2 separate regions of the Homo sapiens genome follow, and region 2 is linked to region 1. A link means that fine-mapping ties the variant in region 1 to the expression of a gene that starts in the linked region. Tissue or cell type: whole blood. Region 1 holds a variant in brackets; the other region holds the start of a gene. All regions are shown on one strand. Distances are between the middles of the regions.

The links. PIP is the estimated chance that this variant, and not a neighbour inherited with it, causes the effect.
Region 2: NCOA1 starts here. The variant in region 1 is fine-mapped to the expression of NCOA1 in whole blood (TOPMed, PIP above 0.99).

What each region holds. Positions count from the first base shown.
Region 1 is chr2:24,826,553-24,834,656 of GRCh38, forward strand. ADCY3 (adenylate cyclase 3) reads right to left here. Exons shown (of 22, transcript NM_004036.5): 11 at 7,933-8,094; 12 at 5,110-5,197; 13 at 4,157-4,273; 14 at 1,350-1,609; 15 at 994-1,056. It overlaps LOC105377626 (a long non-coding RNA gene), which reads right to left and starts at 7,914. Exons shown (of 2, transcript XR_939842.3): 1 at 7,190-7,914; 2 at 5,528-5,808. RefSeq lists enhancers at 1-32, 7,122-8,046, 8,047-8,104 and a silencer at 6,648-6,942. The variant T/C (reference allele first, on the strand shown) is at 4,407.
Region 2 is chr2:24,487,162-24,495,265 of GRCh38, forward strand. NCOA1 (nuclear receptor coactivator 1) reads left to right here and starts at 4,093. Exons shown (of 23, transcript NM_003743.5): 1 at 4,093-4,441. RefSeq lists silencers at 3,746-4,085, 4,063-4,221, 4,376-4,865.

The sequences.
Region 1 (8,104 bases):
TTAGTTTCCATTACCGTATGGTATTTCACTGCATGAATATACCAGTTATGTATCCATTTCCTGTTGATGTCATTTGGGTTGTTTTCATTTGTTTTGGGGGAGGGGGTATGTCTATTACGAACAGTGCCACTTTGGACATTCTCATACATATATCCTGGGACATGAGTATGTGCATGAATTTCTCTAAGATGTGTGTATATATATATATACACATATACACACGTCTGCGTGGGTGTGTATGTAGGAGTGGAATTGCTGGGACACAGGTTTATTTTCAACCTTACTAAATAGATCAAAATATTTTCTAACACGGTTGTACTAACTCATACTCCCACCAGGAGTGTAAGAGTTACTATTGTACTTGATATTGTCAGAGTTATCTGGACCGGTACGTGTGTGATGGTATCTCACTAGGGTGTAACTGGCATTTCCTTGATTACTTGAGTGCCATTTATTAGTGGCCATTTAGAGTTCTTCTTTTGCTAAGGGCTATGCAGGTTTTACCCCTCTTCTATTAGGTCATCTTTTTATTTCTAAACTTCCTTGAAGGTCTGTTCAAGTCATGGAATCATAAAATTTTAAAACCTTGGCACTGGCAGGGACCTTAGAGAACTTCTGGTTCAGTATCCTCCTCAAGAGATGAAATTGCAACTCATGGAAACGGACCTGCCTGTGACCCACAGAGAATTACTGCCTGCTGCAGGCTCAGAAGCCAGGTCCAAATCCAAAGCGTCTTCCTCCCTCCTCATTTTCCTGCTGCCTGTCTGTCCTGCCAGCCAGTTACATGCAGCTGCCATCCACCTGGTATTTCCTTCCCTCCTCACTGCACTGCTGCAGCCCTCCTGGAGGAACCCATGCCAGCTTCTCTAACCTGCACGTATCAGGTCACGTGCCTCCCGGGAGGGTGAGATCCCGGGGCTTGGGCCTGTTATATTCCTGTCTCTAGAAGAAGGGCTGTGAGTGCAGGCCAGGAGGGGAAGCCGTGGCCCTTACCTGTCAGTGCCATTGAGCCCAGGGTTGAATCCTTGCATCTGCTCTAAGGCCACCATAGGTAAGCTGTTGGACAGATAACAGCACAGTCAGGCCCCATCTGGGAACAAGAGCCTGATGCCCAGCCAGGCACCGGGGTATCCCAAGTCCTCCACTCGGGGAGAATGGGAAGAATCTATTCTCAGGTCCTAGCCAAACAGTGATACGTCTGTGAGCAGCCAGGAACTGGTTCTTGAACAAGCCTTTGAGGACCCCTAGTGGCAGAAAGCCACCTCAGCACAGGCCCATGAGCTTGAACTGAGGACTTTGCGGGCGGGAGGAAGGAGACAATACAGATCCCCAGTCACGCTTCATCTTACTCGTGCTCCCGAAAACGCTTGTGGTCGTATTCATCAAAGACGGGACGCCAGGCATAGAGGTTGATGGTGGCCACGGCGCCTGCGACGAGCAGCATGAGCGTGAGCTTCACCATGTGGCTGACCTGCACCAGCATGATGGTGGCGATGAGGGACAGCACGGCCACATAGTTGTAATACTTGGGGTTCTCCAGGCAGCTGCCCTCCGTTTCCATCCCTGCCGTTGCATTGCTGGGTCCCGTGTAGTACTGGAGACAGCTGAGCTGGAGGCCAGGACGGCGGGCAGGGACACACGTTCAAGAGAACAGCAGGTGCTGGTCACAGAGGGCTGTGCATGGTAGTGCACGCTCAGCTGCCACCTCCCGCGGCTCCCCCAGAAATACCGGGAAAGATGGGGAAATTTACCAGGGACTAATCATATGAAAGTTAGTAACTGCAGCTAAGAGCCTCGCCGTTGCCTCATTTGACATTCACAAAAACTCTCTCGAGTATTTTTAGTACTGTCCCTATTGTACAGAAAACTCGGGCCAGATTTGCCCAAACACAATTAGCAAGCAGAAAAGCCAAAAGTAGGAGCCAAGTCTTTAGGCTTCAAATCCAACATGTTCTTCCCCATATCACACTGTTGCTTCAGGAGGGGCCACGGGACCATGAGCCCCACTCACAGCCTCCCCGTGATGACAGCTAGTCTCTGCCCAAATCCTTCCATTGGGGGGATGTTCACTGCCTTCTGGATTCTTTACTGGTTCTGCTACTGGGCAGATGCGGCCGGGAGAAAGCGCATCCAGAACCGGAATCAACCCCCCCTTTTTGTAACTTTCACCCACAGGGCAACCTTGTCTTGCTTGCGCGATTCCCGCCATGTCATTCTAGCATGAGCAGTTGTTACACCTCCCTAGCTTTTTACCCCTCCATGAGTGACAGCATCTCCAGGTGTCCTGTACAGTGTCCAGGACCCCATGCAGTGGTGACCTCCACACCTGGGTGCCAGGTTCCAGGCATGTTGTGACATGCAGGGGGCCTGGGGCTTCTCTTCCCTGGGTAGTGGGCACCAGCAACCCCTGGCCAAGGTAGGCTCTGGAGCCCCTAACTCCTCATTCCCAGTAGACTTATTCTTTTTTTTCTTTTTTTTTTTTGAGATGGAGTCTCGCTCTGTCGCCCAGACTGGCGTGCAGTGGTGCATTCTTGGCTCACTGCAACCTCCACCTCCCAGGTTCAAGCGATTCTCCTGCCTCAGCTGCCCAAGTAGCTGGAATTACAGGCTCGTGCCATTGTGGCTGGCTAATTTTTGTATTTTTAGTAGAGACGGGGTTTCACCATCTTGGCCAGGCTGGTCTCAAACTCCTGACCTCAAGTGATCTGCCTGCCTCAGCCTCCCAAAGTGCTGGAATTACAAGTGTGAGCCACCGCGCCCGGCCCCCCACTGGACTTCTGATTAGCTGCAGCCCTGGAGCTTTTTCACTTATACCACTGGCAGAATAAGTCTCCATGTTGGTTGTATTTGTGTGCTCCAATTTTTTTTTTTTTTTTTTTTTTTTTTTTGAGACAAAGTCTCACTCTGTTGCCAGGCTGGAGTGCAGTGCACAATCTCGGCTCACTGCAAGCTCCACCTCCCGGGTTCACGCCATTCTCCTGCCTCAGCCTCCTGAGTAGCTGGGACTACAGGCGCCTGCCACCACGCCCGGCTAATTTTTTTGTATTTTTAGTAGAGACGGGGTTTCAACTGTGTTAGCCAGGATGATTTCGATCTCCTGACCTCGTGATCCGCCCGCCTTGGCCTCCCAAAGTGCTGGGATTACAGGCGTGAGCCACTGCGCCCGGCACCGTGTGCTCCAATTGTTAAAGTACAACAATAACATTATATTTGAAAAAAAAGGAAGATAGTGTATATGGTACTACCACAATTAGAGGAGGCCGTGACAACTGACAAGAGAACACTGATGACAGCTCCAGGCATGTAGTGCTCAATACGTGCCCAGTGGTTCTAAACCAATAGATCTGGGCTCCCAACTCCTGTCCCTTTTCCCCAAGAAAGCATTTGGCTGCCCCCTCAGGGAGGAAGAATACACAGGACTGGGACTTAGAACTGCCTCCATTCTGGACTCTGTCACTTCCTGGCTGTGTGACCTAGAGCAAGTGAATTACCTTTTTTTTTTTTTTTTGAGACGGAGTCTTGCTGTCGCCTAGGCTGGAGTGCAGCGGCTCAATCTCGGCTCACTGCAACCTCCGCCTCCTGGGTTCAAGCGATTCTCCTGCTTCAGCCTCCCAAGTAGCTGGGATTACAGGTGTGCACCACCATGCCTGGCTAATTTTTGTATTTTTAGTACAGATGGGGTTTCACCATGTTGGCCAGGCTGGTTTCGAACTCCTGACCTCGTGATCCGCCCACCTTGGCCTCCCAAAGTGCTGGGATTACAGGCGTGAGCTACCGCGCCCAACCAATTACCCTTTTTGAGAGTTAGTTTCTCCCTATGAAACTGCAGATACTGGTACAACTGCTCAGGACTTTTTCACAGATTAAATGAATCAACATACATAAGGTACCTAGCACAGGCCTGGGCACATGGAACTGTGCTCTCGGACTCTGGGAGAGGAGCTTCAAGGAAACAAGTCCATCCCAGAGGCTCCCTGGATGACAGGGACAAGACTCCTTCCACTAGGTGGGGATGATGTGTTTGGGAACCTAAGAGCCACTCCAAAGCTACATGACGGTGGAGGGATGGACTGAGAAACTGCTTGTGTGACCCAAACAGAAGCCCTTCTCCACTGAGAACAGGGGCGTCCCTTCAACAAGGACAGCAGGAGCTCACCATGTCCACGACATTTGCCATCACCAGGATGAAGATGGCGAGCATGGCCCAGGTGTTCCTGGCCCAGCGGGTCCGGTCAATCCAAGTTGAGAAGGCCACAAGCTTCTTAGGAAAGGCCTAGAAGGAACAGAATTTCAAGGGCCATGAGCCTTTGCCAGTCCTTTCTCCTGCGACGTGACTGACAGCAACTCAGGCTGGTCCCGTATTCCAGTCCCAGGAGCCTCAAAACGGACTCTGCCTGGGAGTCACC[T/C]GACAGCTGACCAAGGGGCAGAGCTGAGAAGAGGGCGTGGGAGTTCTGACGCTGTGTTGGACCTCCTCGATGTGCCTGTTCAACAGCACAGCCTCCAGGTCGCAGCCCTTTCCACAGCAGACGTGGTGACGAGGTGAGGCCAGGGCAGGAACAGTTTTCAGGGCTGCTCGTCTCTGGCCAGCTACTCCTGCCTATCCTGGCTCCAAGTGACCTGGCGAGCCACCTGTCAGATTTATGTTCCTAAACACTGCTTTACCTTTGTCATTCTGATTAAAAAAAAAAAAAACTCTGCTTGGTACCTCAGTGCCTTACAGGAGAAAGTTTTAATCCCTTTAGTCTGGCTTCTAAGGGCCTTCACCATCGGGGCCAACCCACCTTCCAGCCGGCCCTCCACTTCCTCTCTACCCAGGTTCTTGTTTACCCAGACTCTGCCGTACTCATACGTGCTGCAGCGCCACGGCCCAACAAGGCCCACCACGGCCCAGCCGTGGCCCACCACAGCCTGCCACAGCCTGGTGGCCCAGCCAGAGGGAGTGCTCTGCTGATGGTGAATGAATGGATGGGCAAGTGCCTGGACCGTCCTAACAGAGGAGTGTCTGCCTGTCAGATTTGACAGAAAGAATAACTCCATCACTGCCCAGTTTTACAGGGAGTGCCACTCACTTCCAGAGGCTTCTGAGCTCAGTAGAAAAGTGCCTCTTACCCGGGGAAAGATGGCAGCCAGGGAGCAGATGGTCAGGATGAGGAGCAGAATCTCCCCCACCATGAAGGTCACATAGTTTGTCATTAGCCTGTGACAGAGAGAAGACAATTGGGAGAGGCCAGAGGGGACAGTGAGATGGGGTGAGGGGCTAGGAGAGGAAGGGACGGGGATGGGGGCAGGGGCCAGGGGACAGCGGACAGGGGGCAGGGGACAGTGGACAGGGGCCAGGGGGCAGGGGACAGCGGACAGGGGCCAGGGGACAGCGGACAGTGGCCAGGGGACAGCAGACAGGGGCAGGGGCCAGGGGGCAGCGGACAGGGACTGGGGGCAGGGGCCGGGGGCAGGGGCCAGCAGACAGGGACCGGGGGCAGGGGCCAGCAGACAAGGACCGGGGGAAGGGGGCAGGGGGCAGGGGACAGGGGCCGGGGGCAGGGGACGGGGAGGCCTCTCAGCACAGCACGAGCCTGTACAGCTCCACGCGGTGCCAGGGAATTGCTGCTGCCTGCCGTGCAGAACAGGACAAAGGCCCTGATGAGACGGGCCGCCAGCTGAGTGCCGGCCTGGGAGCGGGCCACTCTCCAGCTGCAGCTGCTGCCTGGGACATTTCCCAGAGAGGGAACAACTCACAGGTGGCCTGGGCACAGCCCAGGATAAACTTGGGCAGGGATCTTAGGAATGCACCCCTGCCATGTCGCTGTGCTGAAAGGACAGAGCACGGAGCAGCATCACTCCCTCGCTGCCGGGGGCTAAGAGTCTGCCTGTGACAGCCACCCCCAGCTTCACAGTGGACACACTCAACACATCCACCTTAACCTGACAACTCCCGGAAACCTGTTCTCTATACCCTCTGCTCACACCCATTCCCGTTTAACCCCTCCCTGGAAGGTGTCCTTGCCAAGAGCCCCAGAAGCCTCCTGGTAGCTAAATCCATGTCCCATTTTCAGTCACCTCTCACCCCTCCTTGAGACACTTTTCTCGCTTGGTTTCTTGAGTCCTTTTCTGTCTCTGCATCTGGACACGCTGCCTTGAGCTCAGCAAGTCTCGTGTTGCAGCACAGCCTGCATGCTGGTGATGCCAGGTTCACGTCTCCAACCCCACCCGCCCTCCAAACTCCAGATCATGGATGCTGGCCTCCTTGGCTTGTGGGCACTGCAAACTTCACGTGTCCCAAAGCAAACTCCTGATCTTTGCCTCTCCACTCTCATCTTTCCACCTTGTCCCCATCTTGGTTAACGGCACCCCCGTCCTGCCAGTTGCTCAGATCAGAAGCCCAGGAGACATCCTCAACTCCACACTCACGCCCCACAACCAATCTGCCAGCAAATCCTGTCAGCTCTGTCTCCAAAATACATTCAGCATCTATCGACGGAATCCAACCACTGATCCTCCTCTATCCTCGGCCTGGCCTGGCCACCACAGTGGCTTGTCTGGGCCGCTATTTGGTCTCACTGCTCCCGCTGTGCTCACTAAGCGCTGTTCTCAGCAGGAGTGAGCCTCTCCAGGCATATGTCACAACAGGGGACTCCTCTGCTCCCTTGTTCTGGCGGCCTCCTGTGTTAAGAGTGGAAGCTGGCACCCTGCAGTGGCGTGTAGGAGGCCCCACGTCTGTGCTGGACTCCTGCTACTCTTCCTGTGGCCCGTTCCCAATGCGATGCCTCCTCACTGTGCCTCCAGGGGCCAGGCCACTCCAGCCTCAGCACCTCTATCCGAAGCAGGTGTCCCCCAGATAGGAGAAGGCTCGCCCCTCACCCGCTTCCAGGCGTTACTGAAATATTATCCTGCCAGCAAGTCCTGCTCTGACCATCCCACATCAAAATGCAAACAAAACAAAACAAAGCTCCCCAGCAGCATACCCGCCTCCCTTCCTTGCCTTCCCTGTGTCTGCAGTACTTACTCTCGCATGGATGCATATTTTAATTGTTTAATTGCTTTTGCCTGTAGCTTCCCCTACCAGAACCCAAGTTTCACGAGAGCAGGGGTTTCTGTGTGCCGCATCGCTGCCATAGCCCCAGCCCTTGATCCCCACGCATGAAGCAGACAACCAATCAATACTTATGGAATGAGTGAATTTGAGCCTCACCACAGTCGTGAGTGTCCGCTAGGGCAGGGGTTGTTCTCCTCATTTCACAGATGAGGAAACAGATGCTGCCGGAGCCTGCAGTGGCCTGCACGTGGTCACACACCCGCAACCTTAGATAGTGTGACCCAGCCCAAGGCTCCTGACAAACTGTAATCCCAGCAGGGTTCCAGACCCCTCCTCTGTGACGGGGAATCCCCGATTGGCCGAGGGGAGAAAGGGAGAACAAGAGAGTGGTCGTCACCCTCAGACAGGGCTTCACCAGCTGGGGACTCCAGGAGGCCACACCTTGCCCTGGAGGACCTACTGCTGCGTTAGAGAGGGCGTCAGTCTGTGCCCACAGCCTAAAATCTATCTTTACCAAGATGAGCCAAGAGAGGGGCCAGGTCAGCCTTGGTGACTGAGACTGACGCAGTGTCCCCATCTTTGTCCCAAGAATCAGTGTGGGCCCATCTAGCCAAGGTCTCCAGCCTTCTGGAGGCCTCTGTCCCTCAGCTCTCTTGATCCTGGCCAGATCCCCATTCTGACGCTAGGACTGCTCCAAAACGCGGGGCAGGGAAAAGGAAGGATGCCCAGGGTGCCGTCTAGCACTCCTGGGGCCTGTGGGGGCCGTCCCAGTGGGGGTCAGGGAGCAGAGACTGGCTTGCTCCCCAATGTCAGGCTCCCGCTGAGACACCTGCCCCCGCCCCCCGCCCGGCACCACCGCAGCCGAGGAAACTCGTGGCCCTCCCCGGCCCCTCCCTCACCAGGGGTCGATGAGTATCTCGACCAGGGCCGTGCAGAGCAGGACGACGCAGGAGCAGCTGAAGGCAGCCCCACTCTGCTTCTCCTTCTCCACCGAGTAGCGGGTTTCCATCTCGGGGTCCATGAACCGCATGGACAAGAGGAAGGTGTTTCTCTTCTTTACTCTGCAGTGGG
Region 2 (8,104 bases), 340 kb before region 1:
AAATACTGTATTGAGTGCTTTACATACATTATTTCATTTAATCTTAGCAACAATCCTTTGAGGCAAGTGCTAGCATCCTATTTTACAGATGGGGACACTGAGTCTTGGAGATGTTGAAGTGGTTTGGCCCAGGTTTCATACAGCTAGTAAGTGACAAACCCATTTCAAACCTGGGTCTCCCTAACTCTAAACCTAGTCTTCTTAACCTCTATCCTTTAAGCAGATGTAGAAATTAAAGATTATTCAAAGTGAAATGGGTAAAATACAGAGCTGGTTATGGGCAAGTGGCAGGCTCATGCACTATGGCTAGGACCACAGATTGAAACAATTTTCTGGAGGCCAGTTTGGTAAATAATGTAGTAAAAAAATTAACATGTACCCTTTGAGCCAACAATTAATCTTCTAGAAATTTAAAGAAAATAATTTCTAAACTGCACGGAGGCATGCATTAGAATTACAGCATGATTTACAAAAATATACAAACAAAAATACAGACAATGTAAACATTTTTAGTAAGGAATTAAATGGCTAAACAGATACACAATGCAAGAGTATTTAACTATTAGGATGAAAATACATTGTACAGTAAAAGGCACCAGATTACTGATGAGCATTTATCATGTGATTTTATTTTATTTATTTTATTTTTTTGAGATGGAGTCTCACTCTGTTGCCCAGGCTGGAGTGCAGTGAGGCGATCTTGGCTCACTGCAGCTTCTGCCTCCTGGGTTCAAATGATTCTCCTGCCTCAGCCTCCTGAGTAGCTGGGATTACAGGCACCCACCACCACACTGAGTAGAGACAGAGTTTCACAATGTTGGCCAGGCTGGTCTTGAACTCCTGACCTCAGGTGATTCGCCTGTCTCGGCCTCCCAAAGTGCTGGGATTACAGGCGTGATTTTATTTTTATGTAAAATTGACTACATATAGTGTATTTATATGTGCAAATATATATAGAGAAAGGTGTGGAAACATGTTTACTATGTTTCTCTCTGGCTTGAAAAAGTTTATTTTTAAACTTTTTGTGCTGTTCTTTATTGACTGAATATTTTGTGAGTCTGTATCAATTATTATAAAACAAAAAACTATTTGAAAAAAAGAATGTCAAAGTTAAATCAATTCTTGCCTCAGTAACTGGAGTAATTTCATGCACACTAGCCATATATTTTATAGAACTGGAAATCTATTATGCTCTGGAGAAAATCCAACAGGTATGTTCTAGATTTTGCCCGTAGAACTAGGCTGTTTCTAGTCCACCAAAGGATTATATTAATTTATGGAAACAATAGGGTTTGGACTAAAACCAGTTCTATCTGGGCTATAAGAGTTAAATGTTGTCTTACATTTTTATTTATAAATATCTTCAAAGCATTTTCATTTAATTGGAGTTAGTCTTCCTTGTTGATTGGCATTGTATTTTGGGAGTAAATAAATTTTAAATAGCTAAGGTAAATGGATTTTAGAGAGGCTACTTGTACAGTCACGAAGTAAATCTAATGAATCTTTTGGCCCTATATTTAGGGTTGCTCGGGTGGATTAGTAAAATGGGCCTGTTTAGTAAAAGTAGATGGAGTCTGAGAGAAGTTGAGTATGACCAGAGAAAAGATTACCAATTGGAGACATAAAAGGGTGTTATAACTGCTTTGACAAGTGATTATGACTTGTAGAGGAAGGAGAAAAAAGTCAAAGAGTTATTATTTAAGAAACATTACCAGGCGCAGTGGCTCATGACTGTAATCCCAGCACTTTGGGAGGCCGAGGCTGGTGGATAACCTGAGGTCAGGAGTTCAAGACCAGCCTGGCCAACACGGCGAAACCCTGTCTCTACTAAAAATACAAAAAATTAGCCGGGCGTGGTGGCGGGTGCCTGTAATCCCAGCTACTCGGGAGGCTGAGGCAGGAGAATCACTTGAACCCAGGAGGCAGAGGCTGCAGTGAGCTGAGATCGCGCCACTGCACTCCAGCCTGGGCGACAAGAGCGAGACTCTGTTTCAACAACAACAAAAAAGAAACAGTACCATTCTAGAAAAGAACTCTCTCTTTAGCATACATGGATGGTTATGGCAATATAAATTAACACCTAAATAATTTGTCATTCAACAAAATCTTAGCACTGTGTGTCTTGAGGATATTTTAAAGTTAATTACGACCCCGGGCTGCAGAGTGGGAGATTGGAAGAAGGAAATTCAGGAGTTGTTTTGTTAACAGTTGAAGCTGTGGAAATAAACAGTCAACCGAAGCCAGAGGAAAGGAAGGAAAAAAATAAAACCTTGAGGATACCAACATTTTTTATGGCCCCGTAAAAAAGGAGCAGCCCAAGAAAAGTGCAAACGAAGGCAAGTTCAGAAATCAGGTAGAGAGACTCATATTGAAGACAAGGGAGGAGAGTTTCAAAAAGGAGGAGTTAGCAGTATCACGTGCTGTAGAAAGGCCACACGACAGTAGGACTGAAGTGGCCACTAGATTTGGCCTTCAGCACTTACTAGAGTCTAGTGGAGACAGGAGTACCTTGCACAAGTGGCTCATTTGTTGGCACCAGAGGCTAGAACAAGGCACTTTCACACAGTCTGCATTGGACTAGATTGGGAAGTAGGCCCTACATTAGGGGACGAAACTCATGAGTGCCCGGGTATTTTCAGCTATTATTGGGGATAGGGACTCTGCGGGTGGCTAGAGGTACTGCTAAGCCAGAGCTCAGGAGATGCACCTAGGGCCCCAGTAGTAGGTCTCCGATAAGAATCAGGGGAATGAATATATAAATGAATGAATATATGAATGCATGTGGGGGTGTGGTCTAGCGATTACTTTATGAGCGTGACAAGGATAGGAAGAGGATGGTGAAAGCATACAGTAGTACCTGCCTGTGAAAGAAGCTGCCCGTCGACTCAGAGAGCTGCCACGGAGATTGGTGTTTTCAAGGCTGTCAGGTTCCCCAGTTGGGAGAAGGGTGGGAAGGGCTTAAGGATTTACAGAGATTGATTTAGGGGAGAACACACAGGAAGCGAAACAGCAGGAAACGCCGGGAGACAGCAGCAGCAGGACAGGATTGAGGAAGGGTAAGAGTGCGAAATGGGGTAAGAATAAAAGAAAGGAATGGACAGATGTATGCTTTACAAGGCACTTCCACGGCGAGTGACTCATTCATGCTTAGGACAACCCAGGGAGAGACATAGGTATATATTGCATTGCCAGCCTTTGGAATGCGGGATGCGGTCCAGATAAGGCCATCGCAGCTCAGAGAGGCTGTTCAGCCGCTGTTCGATTCCTCTGGTGACAAGAACACTCTACTTTTGGAAGTAGCACTTCTATTAGAGAAGTTAAAAAAAAAAAAAAAAGAAAAGGGAGATAAGAAGAAAGGTGTGGGCCCCTTGAGGGGAAAGATCTGTGAATGACAGACATTTTAGATAATTCATGGAATTGCAGAGCCAGAACGGGTCAGGCAGATCTTTTCATCTGTAAAACGAAGGGGGCAGACGATCTTCCTTTTCTCTTGTCTAATAGCCTGTGAAATCATCTAGGCAACCACCTCCCAATTTTACAGAATAAAAAACGAGGCCCGCGGGATATGTCTCGCTCAAAGTAACAGAACGCCCGAGTGGAGGGACAGGCCCGGAGCCGACTCCGCCCCGTCCGCAGGGCCTCTCGCCGCTCCGACACCTTCCCAGAAAGATAAAGAACAGCGGGAGGCGGCAGGCCCGGCGGCCTAGCTGCGAGCGCCCTGGTGTTCGAGGCCGCTTCCCGGCAGCAGTGGGAGGAACGCCCCGAGGGGAGGGCAGGAGAGGGGCGGGGAGGAGTTGAGACGGGCGGGGAAGAGTTCGGGCCTCCTTTCCCACACTTCGTTAGGACGCCGGCTGGGGCGGGCCGGCAGAGGGCGCGGGGCGGTTCCTCGCTCGGCGGGCCCGGCAGGCCCGGCGGGCTGGGGGCGCGCTGTCCCGGGCGCACTGTCGGAGCTCGCGGGCACCGGGTCGCGGCGGCCCGGGCGGCCGGAGCCGGCAGGGGAAGTGCGGCGGGCGGGCAGGCGGGCGGCCGGGAACGGGCGGGGCGGGGCGGGGCGCGAAGGGGGCGGTGCCGCGAGCGGGGGGCGGTGGCGGCGGCGGCGGTGGCGGCCGAGGAGGAGAACATGGCGGCCGCGGAGAGCGGCTGAAATGCCTGTTCTTCAGGCCGGGCGAGCGGGAGTCTGACGCGATTTGCTGAGCTCTGTCCTCCGACGGCTGCCTCGCGGCCTTGAGGGCCTCCGCCGCCTGTTCGCTGCTGCTCCCTCGAGCGGAGCCTGCGTCAGGTTCCCTCTGCATCCCCCTGCGGGGGGACCCCTGCTCCGGAGGAGGGGGCCGGAGAGCCGCGGCGCCGGGCCCGAGGAGCGGCGGAGGCCGGGGCGGCGCCGCCGCCACGGTCGCGGACGAGTGCGGCGCCGGTGAGCGGGGCCCAGAGGCGGCGGCGGCAGGTGAGTGGCGGGCTGCGGGTGCGGAGCCTCCCGGTGGGTGCAGCTGTCACGAGCCGCGCGGCCGCGGAGGCCCTAGGGGGCGGGGAGCAGCTGGCGCCCCTCCGCCCCCTGCTCTCCTTTCTCCCGCTCCATCCTCCTCCCACTTCCCCGAGTTCCCCTCGCGGCCCGGCGCGGCTGGAGGGGGCGGAGGTCGCAGCTGTCACGGGCACCAGCTGGGGGCTGCTCCCCGCCGGGGGAAATCGCTGCAGCAGCGACTTCTCTCCGCCTCTTTTCCAGTTGCCCTAGTTAGCGCGGAGAGGGCGAGCATCCGCGGAGGGGGTGCGAGCTGCGCGGCCGCCTGCCCGGCGTGGGGAGCGGGCGCCCCGGGCCGCCGCCGAGAGGGGGAGCCGGAAGTCGGCGCGGGCGCCCCTCGGCCCCGACGACGCCGTGACCTTGGCCGGCCCGCTCACCTCTCGGAATCTCGCCTGCCGGGACCGCGAAATGGGGGCGACCGCGGCGTCCCTCTCCGTCGGCGCAGCCCTCGACGGCGCTTGGGTTTGACCCCGGCGCGCTTGCTCGCCCCTTCTCCCGAGAAGGGGTTTCGGAGGTAGACATGGGATGGATACTGGACATGTTCCTGTCGCGGCCCGGGTTTGGTCCCCTTCCTGGGATTCAGCCGAAAGGGCCGAGGAAGGGAAGCAAACATGTTGACGAGGCGATTGGGAGGTGGGGTTGGTTAGTGGGCAGTGACAGAATTCGGGCCGCTCTCTAGTCCCTTGTAAAAGACCTGAAAAAATCGGACACCCAGGGTCTCCAGTCCTTACTACCCAGCTGTGGTGGCTGCTTTTTTATTTTATTTAAAAGCAGTTACCCCCATGGGTAGACACTGCCCAGTCTGACGACGTTAGAGGGAGACGGAGGGGTTGACAATACAGCCTGTGTGTGTGTGACAAGGACAGGCCACGGTGTTGTGTCCGGAGAGTTTCATGGGGAGGAAAACTTTAAGCTGGAGGATCTGTTAGCCTCTCATGCTTGGCCCTCCTCGTTTCTTGTAGAGGTGTTGAACAGGCAGGTGTCCTTGTGCAGAAGGTGACATTTTTTCTTCGGAGACGGTGAGTTTTTAATGTCGAGTGTGATGTTGGTGAGTAAAGGGTTCTTGAGTGAATTGCAGTCCCAGCACCCTCTGTGGATGCCAAGAGGAATCTCTGTGGCGATGATTTGTGAGGGCTGGTGCTTACATTTCAGTGATTAAGAAATCAAGTGTCTGCTTAAAACATTACTGCCGTGAAGCGTAGATTATATGATACAGTTGAGGGATGGATCTCAAGGGTTAAATTTGTTTGAGGTTTGTCTCCTCTTCTGGAATTGGTTGGAGGCTAGTCTCAAAAAAAAAGCAAACAAAACAACAACAATAACAACGAAAGTTGGCCAGAGGGGCCTCCTATGATGTTGTAGGAAGGGGGTCGGATTTCTTCATGTTGAGAATAATGTGAAAAGAAAGTATTTGCTTAGGTCTCTTGGATCTTCAACTAGAAATAGTTTTGGGTTAAAGGTAGCAGTGGGGTTTGATTCAGCTTAACAAATAGGCATTCCTTGAACTATTTGCCATAAATTAGATAAAATGGAAGTGTTTCTGTTTTATCTCCTGTACTTTGTGGAAAGGTCTAATTTGGTTTTGTGAACGAATGTCCGAAATGTTTTATATTTCTTCTTCAGACTCTATGCTTTGGGAACAGTGGGTCACAGAGAGGGTCTGAGTTGGGAATATATGGTTTAGAGAGAAAATAGAGGACTGCTGCTTATAAGAACAGGTGTTTAGTTTGATTTTTGTAGATATTTTCTACTGGTTATTTAACAACATTGAAGTTTGCTTTATAAGGTGCAAAACGTGAATTTTACGTAGCTTACACTTGATCTCTTCCTTATTTCTCTCAGAAAACCTGTAGGATTGTGCCTATTAAATTGCTTTTTGTGTGGTTTAAACCAAGAGAGTATTTTAGATCTGCAGTGGTTTTATTGGAAAAAAAAAAAAAGTGCTTGATGGAGCTAATGGTGATTGTTTCACTTAAACTAGGATTATATAGACAATGCTTCTTCCTGCCTCTTTCTGCGAACATTTGTTTTTGTTTCTCCCTCAATTCCAGGGTTTCATTTCTAGAAATCTGGGCTGCAAACAGAAGCAGCAGTTTGTATAATCCCAAGAACTTGCTTATGCCAGGAAGCTGTAAGGGTAGCATGAAGCGGGTGTGATGTAAAGACACTGCTACTACTTAAGACATTTAACTGTTGAGGGAGTCTAAGGTCAAACTTTAATTTTTGTTGAATTTCCTGTTTTCTGCTTATGTGTTAATCTTTTGGTGGGCAGAAGATTGGGTTGCTATGGTGCTAACTGGTGTATATTGTGAAAGTGCTGGCAACATTTCATGCTTTTACTCTATAGGGAAGGGTGGTAAACAAGCCTAAATAATTTAAAGATGTTGTTCTCAGAATGGAATGTTCTGTGCATGTCTTCTTGATCCTGCTAATCCAGTGAGCGGTCTTCACTAGGACTAAATGTTGAGTAAGTGATGAGGGTGGTATAGAGGTGCTGAAAGGTGGAGTGGTGGAGAGAGGGTATTGGGCATTTTCTTGAAATTCTTTTCCCCAATTCTGTATAGGGAATCTGTATACTAGACTGTGATTTATAATTGTTTTTCAAGGATGTTTTAGTTCTCCCTGCTTGGTTGTCATCAATTTCATATACCTCCTCTTAGATACTACCTCTGTTCCGTACTTTAGTTTGTCTTTTTTGCTGCGTCTCCCAAGGACTCCACATTGTTTGAATGTTATGTTGCATATCTTATGGAGTTGGCTGGCCTTAAGCCATGTGGCTTAACATAGTTTTCATTATAGGGCAGGTGTGGGAGGTCAATACAACGCACAACACGGAGTAAAATCTAAGTCATGGAGCATAGGAGATCCCCGGGACGCTCATGATTGTTTTGGCATTGGTTTTTGCCTTTTAAATATGATTATAACAGAAATTCTCAGAGGACCATCAGCTGCTTTCCTGGCAGAGGTCCAAAAATGTTTTGGAGGGTTCCATTTTGCATTACTTGCAAATATTGGATGCTGTGGTCGGTGTGGGCTCGGGTGAAATCCATGTGTTTCAGGAGGTGGATGTCAGAACACTGTATCTGATCTGGGCTGCAGAACCGTATAAATTTCTCCCTATCTTAGATTAACTTTCCTACCCATTTGGGAAGACTAGACTGTAGGAAAGGACTTTTTAAAATTGCTTCTTTCCCAGATTAGCAGTAGTTTAGCCGTTGGTGATTGGCAACTAAGGATAGGCCTCATGTTCTATTCTTAACATTGAAGATGAGGTCTAGTCATTTAAAACCTTTCCTTTTCTCTTTATATTTTAGTTAGACCTTGTGCCTTTCAACATTTGGTGTCAGAGGTCATAAAATGGCCTAGTGGCAACTAGGTACCAATGTTGGTTGCTTCATTTCATAAGGAGATGAAGGTGTTTTTTTTTTGTTTTTTTTTTTTAATAGCTTAGTTCTGGAAAATGGTTTGTGGGCTATAGTATTTGGATTAATGTATAGAAATGATTATTATATATTTCTGCAGGATACATGGCTGAATAAGGGAAATTATTATAAAACGCTGATACCAACATATAAGTCCAATTCCATAAGT